Regions from separate parts of the Homo sapiens genome. Here region 2 is reported to be linked to region 1. Evidence: microRNA targets listed by miRTarBase, many of them from high-throughput screens and not tested one by one. Region 1 holds a microRNA gene; the other region holds the end of a gene's coding sequence.
What was found. Region 1 holds the annotated microRNA hsa-miR-6736-3p (UCAGCUCCUCUCUACCCACAG, at 960-980, opposite strand). A microRNA usually pairs through its seed, bases 2 to 8, with sites in the 3' UTR of a target mRNA and lowers its output. Matches are read on the target gene's strand: a 7mer-m8 pairs with bases 2 to 8, a 7mer-A1 pairs with bases 2 to 7 and ends in A, and an 8mer does both.

Region 2: miRTarBase lists TENM4 as a target of hsa-miR-6736-3p. Seed matches in the 3' UTR shown: 7mer-A1 at 1,307-1,313.

The regions. Positions count from the first base shown.
Region 1 is chr1:145,849,628-145,852,751 of GRCh38, forward strand. It overlaps MIR6736 (microRNA 6736), which reads right to left and starts at 1,018; the gene lies at 960-1,018. PIAS3 (protein inhibitor of activated STAT 3) reads right to left here. Exons shown (of 14, transcript NM_006099.3): 10 at 1,393-1,526; 11 at 1,144-1,312; 12 at 826-959; 13 at 605-642; 14 at 1-85. RefSeq lists an enhancer at 54-1,253.
Region 2 is chr11:78,655,409-78,658,536 of GRCh38, forward strand. TENM4 (teneurin transmembrane protein 4) reads right to left here. Exons shown (of 34, transcript NM_001098816.3): 34 at 1-3,128. The coding sequence ends at 2,650. Among named protein-coding and RNA genes, the nearest start is that of NARS2, 82 kb to the left of the region's middle.

The DNA of each region.
Region 1 (3,124 bases):
AGTGAGAAGGGGTCCCTCGGTACTGGAAGAAGTGGCCAAGGGCATCCTGTTCATCTAGTGAGGTGATGACAGAGGGGCCATAGTGCTAGGAAGAATCAAGGGCATAGTTTAAGATCTCAATCCCGACTTCCCCACCTCCCAGTCACTCATCTCAGAAATGCCGTATGAGAGCAATCAACCCCTGTGGATCCGAAGGTATTCTCTTGAGAAGCAGGAGAGCCTCTCCCTCTTTCCCCTACTTCCCTACACCCTTCCCCTTTCCCTGCCTTGAGAGAGCTCCTCCAACTTGTTAGGTTCTTGGCTTTGTGGGCGTCTGAAATGTGTGGAATGTCCGGTTAGAGCAGGCATGGTGCTCTAAGTGCACACGGGGGTAGGGGTGAGTAGGCCAGGGCAGAAAAGTAACAGGGGATCTAGGAAGGAGGCCTAAGTAGGAATCTCAGGAACTACCAGTGGGGCTGAGGAGATAATAAGATACCTACACCCCACTGCCCTCACGGGAAAGCAGATTTACATCCCCAGAGATCATAAGAGAGGGAGGGGCCCCATCAGTGTCTAGAAAGGAAGCTTCAGAGATCTGAGACCTTCTGAAGAAAGAACCACTTACCTGACTCTCTGTCTGAAGAAATGAAAATAAATCTAAACCTGGCAGGAAAAGAAAAATCAAAATTAACCTCCTATCTGACCCCTTTACCACCAAAAGACAAAGCACTGTGGACTGTGGCCCCTTGCAGGAGAAGCAGGAGGCTTTGAGAAGGAACAGGGGTTCTGATGTAGCTCTGGGGAGGGTGTGGCAGTGCAGGGTCCATCTTATGACCCATGTCATACCTTGGATGTCGGCTCCCAGTGGGAAGGCAGGTGGGTACTCATGTAGTGGGAGACTGGACAGGAAATCCCCACCCAACGTGCCCATAGCAGGGCTCCTTAGCACCGAGGATGGCTGGTGGCCAGATGTCAGGACTCTGTGGGTAGAGAGGAGCTGAGGCAGCCAGCAAACCACAGATGCCCTCACCCAGCTCAGGTCCCCAGGTTCCCTCTCTGTCCCCTCCACATTTCTCTTGCCCCAGGCTTTGTCCAATGATCAGAAAGCAATCCTGACTTCTTCCCCTGTCCGTTTTGCTGTAGACTCAGCCTATTTTCTCATACCCTTTGCTTCCAGGTAGGGCCGGGATGGCAGCTGAGGTGACAGAACAGTGCTTCTTGGTAGGGGGCAGATCCTCCTCATCTGATGAGCTTTCTATTGTCAAGTCAATAACTTCGACCTTCTTCTTATTCTCTGATGGATCTCCCCCCTGGACTGGGCTGTACTGGAGGCCTGTGGGTATTAAGAAGACTACGTCTCAGAGAAGAGGCCATCCAAGATTTAGCTTAGCTGGGGAACAGGGGGTCACTCACCATCCAGCCCATACCCTGGCGGGGGGCAAACCTCAGATGCCTCCTTCTTGGGTTTCATTGGGCACCAGGATCCATCTTCCATGAATTGGATCTCATCACAATCTGAACAGGAACTAAGAATCTCCATAAATAAACTGGGGGAAGAGAGAGATGAAAATTCACGGGGCTGGGAGATGAGCAGAACAGTAGCCAGAGTTCTGTAACTCACCTTCCTGTATCTCAGTTTCCTCATCTGTAAAATAAGAACATTATCCATCCTACTGGACCGCTCTGAGTTGTTGGAATCAAATAACACAAGGTATGTAAAAGAGCTTTGCAAAGTAAGTAATAGGTTTTAAAATAAATACAATCTGAGGCTGGGTGCAGTGGCTCACGCCTTTAATCCCAGCACTTTGGGAGGTACAGGCAGGTGAATCACTTGAGGCTGGGAGTTCAAGACCAGCCTGGCCAACATGGTGAAACCTCATCTCTACTAAAAATACAAAAATTAGCCAGGTGTGGTGGCACATGCCTATAATCCCAGCTACTTAGGAGGCTGAGGCACGAGAATCGCTTGAACCCAGGAGGCAGAGGTTGCAGTGAGCCTAGACCACACCACTGTTCTCCACCCTGGGAAACAGAGCAAGGCTCTGCCTCAAAAAAAAAAAAAAAAAAAAAGCCGGCGTGGTGGCTCACGCCTATAATCACACTTTCAGAGACTGAGGTGGGTGGATCACCTGAGGTCAGGAGTTCGAGACCAGCCTGGCCAACATGGTGAAACCCCATCTCTACCAAAAATACAAAATTAGCCGGATGTGGCGGCACATGCCTGTAATCCCAGCTACTCAGGAGGCTGAGGCAGGAGAATTGCTTGAACCCAGGAGGCAGAGGTTGCATGAGCTGAGATCACGAGACTGTGCCATACCACTCCAGCCTGGGTGACAGAGTGAAACACCGTCTCAAAAAAAAAAAAAAAAAAAATCTGAGCACTTACGTGTAGTATAAGGAACAAAAGGAGCAGAGACACAGAAGTCCATAAACCATCTCCAAAAGGCACTGGGTCTTTGGCTTTCTAAACACTTGTGTAAAAATAAATAAATAAAGGCACTAGGGGCCAGGCATGGTAGCTCATGCCTGCAATCCTAGCACTTTGGGAGGCCAAGGTGGGAGGATCACTTGAGGCCAGGAGGTCGAGGCTGCAGTGAGCTATGATTGTGCTACTATACTCCAGTCTGGGCAACAGAACGAGACCCTGTCTCAAAAACAAACAAACAAACAAAAAGTGGGGGAGCACTGGGAACAGGAACCATAATGTAGATTCCAAAAAGAGGTTAAGACTAGCAAGATCAAAAGATTAGAACATCCAGGCCCTGAAAAGAACCTTATTGCAATGCTCAGTGGGAAGTCAGGTAGTTGTTATAGGTGATATATTATGACAGTTCAGTACACTGGCTCTGCCACTTAACAATATAACCTTGAGCAAGGCTCAATCTCTCTCGGCCTCAGTTTCCTCATGTGTAATGATACTACCTATCTCATAGGGTTTTTTTTTTTCTTTTTTTTTTTCTGGGTGAGTGTCACTAGCCAATCATAGGATTATTTCTTTTTTTGAGACAGGGTCTCAATCTGTTGCCCAGGCTGGGGTGCAGTAATGCAATCATAGCTCACTGCAGCCTCAAACTCCTGGGTTCAAGCCATCCTCCTGCCTCAGCCTCCTGAGCAGCTAAGACTACAGTCATGAGCTATTATAACA
Region 2 (3,128 bases), not on the chromosome of region 1:
AGTGGCTCACACCTGTAACCCCAGCACTTCAGGAGGCCAAGGTGGATCGCCTGAGGCCAGGAGTTTGAGAACAGCCTGGGCAACATAGTGAGACCCCATCTCTATGAAAAAAAAAAGAAAGAAAGAAAAAAATAAATGAAACACCCAATAATTCTGTTTTTGATCCCTAAAAGTCCACCCTATTCCTTTGGGGAGGGGGCTGTGGAGGAGGGACAGGGCGTGGGGGAAGCGTAGGGAGCTGGTTCCTGTGGACCGCATGCCGTTCCTGACCTCTGAGCAGACATCCCCAGCAGGTCTTCACTGATGTCAGGCAGCCAGGATGGGACTGATCAACTGGGCAGGAGCACTTTGCCCAAGGGCCCTTGGTATGAAGAGTACATTTTGAGAGGCGTAAGTCCCTTCTGGAGGACAAAACTTGTGTTCTTCAGGCCAAACTGTTTTCCATCTCATCCAAGAATGATCCTGCCAGATGGGAGCCCCCATCTCCAGCTCATGCCTCCCACAGCAGGCCTGCAGAGCACTGTATCTGACTCAGTAGAGCTCTGGATCCAGGGGCAATGGGCAACCAGTGGACAAGCAGGCCAAAGCGCACTGCTGCAGCAGGGTGGCTTTTTTTTTGGAAACAGGAAGAGCACTTAGCGAAACACATCCTCTAATCCCAGTGGGATGACGTTAAGGCGAAATCTCCTCTCCCCAAGAAGTTTTGGTTGCCTCCCTCTGCCAGGCAGAACCCAGACTACATGCTGCTCCGATCCTCATGCAGTCAGACCTTCTCAGTTTCATTAACTTGTGTAATATTCTGAAGACTATGTGAGTAAGGCTATAGAGGTGCCATGAGCTTATCAGTCCAACAAGGTTTCCACGGGGAATAGCTCAGACTCAGAATTCATTTTCCACACTTAATGTAAATGTAACCCATAAAAGTTCCATTTTCTAAGAAGCCCAGCTTAAAAGGAAGCATTTGGCTTCCCCTCCCATCTCCCAGAGCCTCCTGTGAGTGGTAATGACAATGGTAATTAGGCGGATGAACCAGGAATGGAATCCTTGAACAAGGGGCTCCCAGCTCTGGCTGTGACTCCCCCTGCCCTCACTGCTCCCCCAGCCTGCTGGCTGCTGCCTCAGCTTGGGCGTGCTCTTCAGGTGTGGGCTGTCCCTGCTTCTGAGAGGGCTCAGGCCTCTCCCTGACGACACAGGCACAGTTCTTCACAGGAATCATGCCAGCCTGGCCTCCCAGATCTACGGGCACCCACCTTGGGAACTGCCCTGCTCCTGGTGGGGTTGTATGATATGGGCAGGCCACACCACATCAGCTCTTCCCTCCTTTCTTCCTGTCACTAAAAAACACATTGGGTGGGCTTCTCTAGAGGGGAAGCTGTTTCAGAACTTCAGGAATTTCCTGGAAGCCCAGCCTGCCCCAGTCCAGCTCTGCGATCAGCTGGTACATGGAGGCAGATGGGACTTTGGGAACTGGTTAGAAGGATGCTTAGCTTATGCCTTCCTCTCTTTGGCTGGCTTTTTTTGTTAAGCATTTTTCCAGAATCAAAGGCCACCAAGCACCTCCCTCCACATTCCTACGTCTCAGTGGTGGCGGCTGAGTGGTGGAGGGAAGATACTCAAAGTCATAGAGAGAGGGCTTTGCCTCGGAAGGCAGGCTGGTGCCCTCGCCACCACTGCCATGCCTTTGCCATGGGTGGCCTTCTGTTCTGTGGACATGGTGCCCACATTGAAGGCTTGCTGTGCAGTGCTCGTTCTCACATCTGGCTTTGGGAGAAAGGAGGAGATGAACAGGAACATCATGGAGGACCAACCAATCACAGGCATCCTGGGTGCTTTCCCTCCCGGGAGGATGGGACTCTGAGCCCAGGATGTTATGTCACTGGTCTGGGGGAAAGGACCTGGGAGACACTTTCTCTATCCCAGCATGGGGGTGGCACCGACAACTACACAGGATTTGCAAAAGTGGTAGGGGGTTTCATTCAGCATCAAAATAGAAAGCTTGAACAGGAGTTTGGGGCAGCTTAAAAAAGGTGCTGAACAACACCATGAAATTCCCTGGAGCAAGATGAAGCCATCTATGATCCTCTGGAGGCAGAGAACAAGGTGAGAAGAAATCCACCACTCTTCTGCAGGAGCCCTGCCAAGGAGCCTCAGGTCCTACAGACCCTCCTCCCAGGCCCCCTTGGAAGGGGTGTTGTACTGGCCCATCACTCCCTTTACTCCTGCCCGACCCCAGTCGAAGAAGAAAGGGTTGCACATGAGACAAGTTAGCACAGACATTCATGTCCCACATCACACTGGGTACCTAGGGACAGACGAGGACACACCCCAGGAGATGCATCTCAGAGAGGAGATACATACCCCAAACGACAAGGGAAAAATCCTCAAGGAAAAAGGGAACAAAAGACAATAAAGTTTTCATTGTGATCACACTACAGAAAAAAATACCTTCTGTTCTTTGCAAAAAATGTGCGAAGGCCAAATCTGTGTTTTTCTTTTCTAAAAAAAAGGATGTTGCATGAGTTACAATGCAACCAGTATCTTTTTGTTTCTGCACTTGTTAAAAAATCATTTTTTTAAAAGTACAACACAGTCAGGTATGCGGCCACAAAAGAGTAGCTGTCTTTGGCAAGAAGTCCTTGGTCCTCTCTGTCACCTCCGGCCCATCTCGCTCTGTCTCATGAAGTGGATGTTGTTGGCGCTGTCTGACAGTTCTGGGTACTGCTCGACAGAGATCACGAAAAAGCCGTCGTAGCCTTGCACCCGCCCTGTGCTCAGCACCTGCTGCTTCTCCCCCTCTGTCCAGGCCCGCAGGCCTTCCTCCCCTTCCCGCAGTCTCTGCTGCTCGCGGGCCCACGCTTGGCGCACGGCTCTCTGCCGGGCCAGCTCCAGGACCCGTGCCTTCTCCTCATCCAACGTTGTCCCGTAGCGTGTGTTCAAGCACAGTGCCCCGTACTGGAGCTGGATGTCTGTGTAGCGTCTAGTCCTGCCATTAAGTACTGTGTTGATCTGGGACACAGTGACGTTGACCCCATTCTCCAGGGTTCGCCGCCCCCCACTGAGGCCCAGGATGGCCAGGTCACCTTCTGAAGGTCCTGGTTTCACAAAGTAATGGGTATCCACCCCATCAA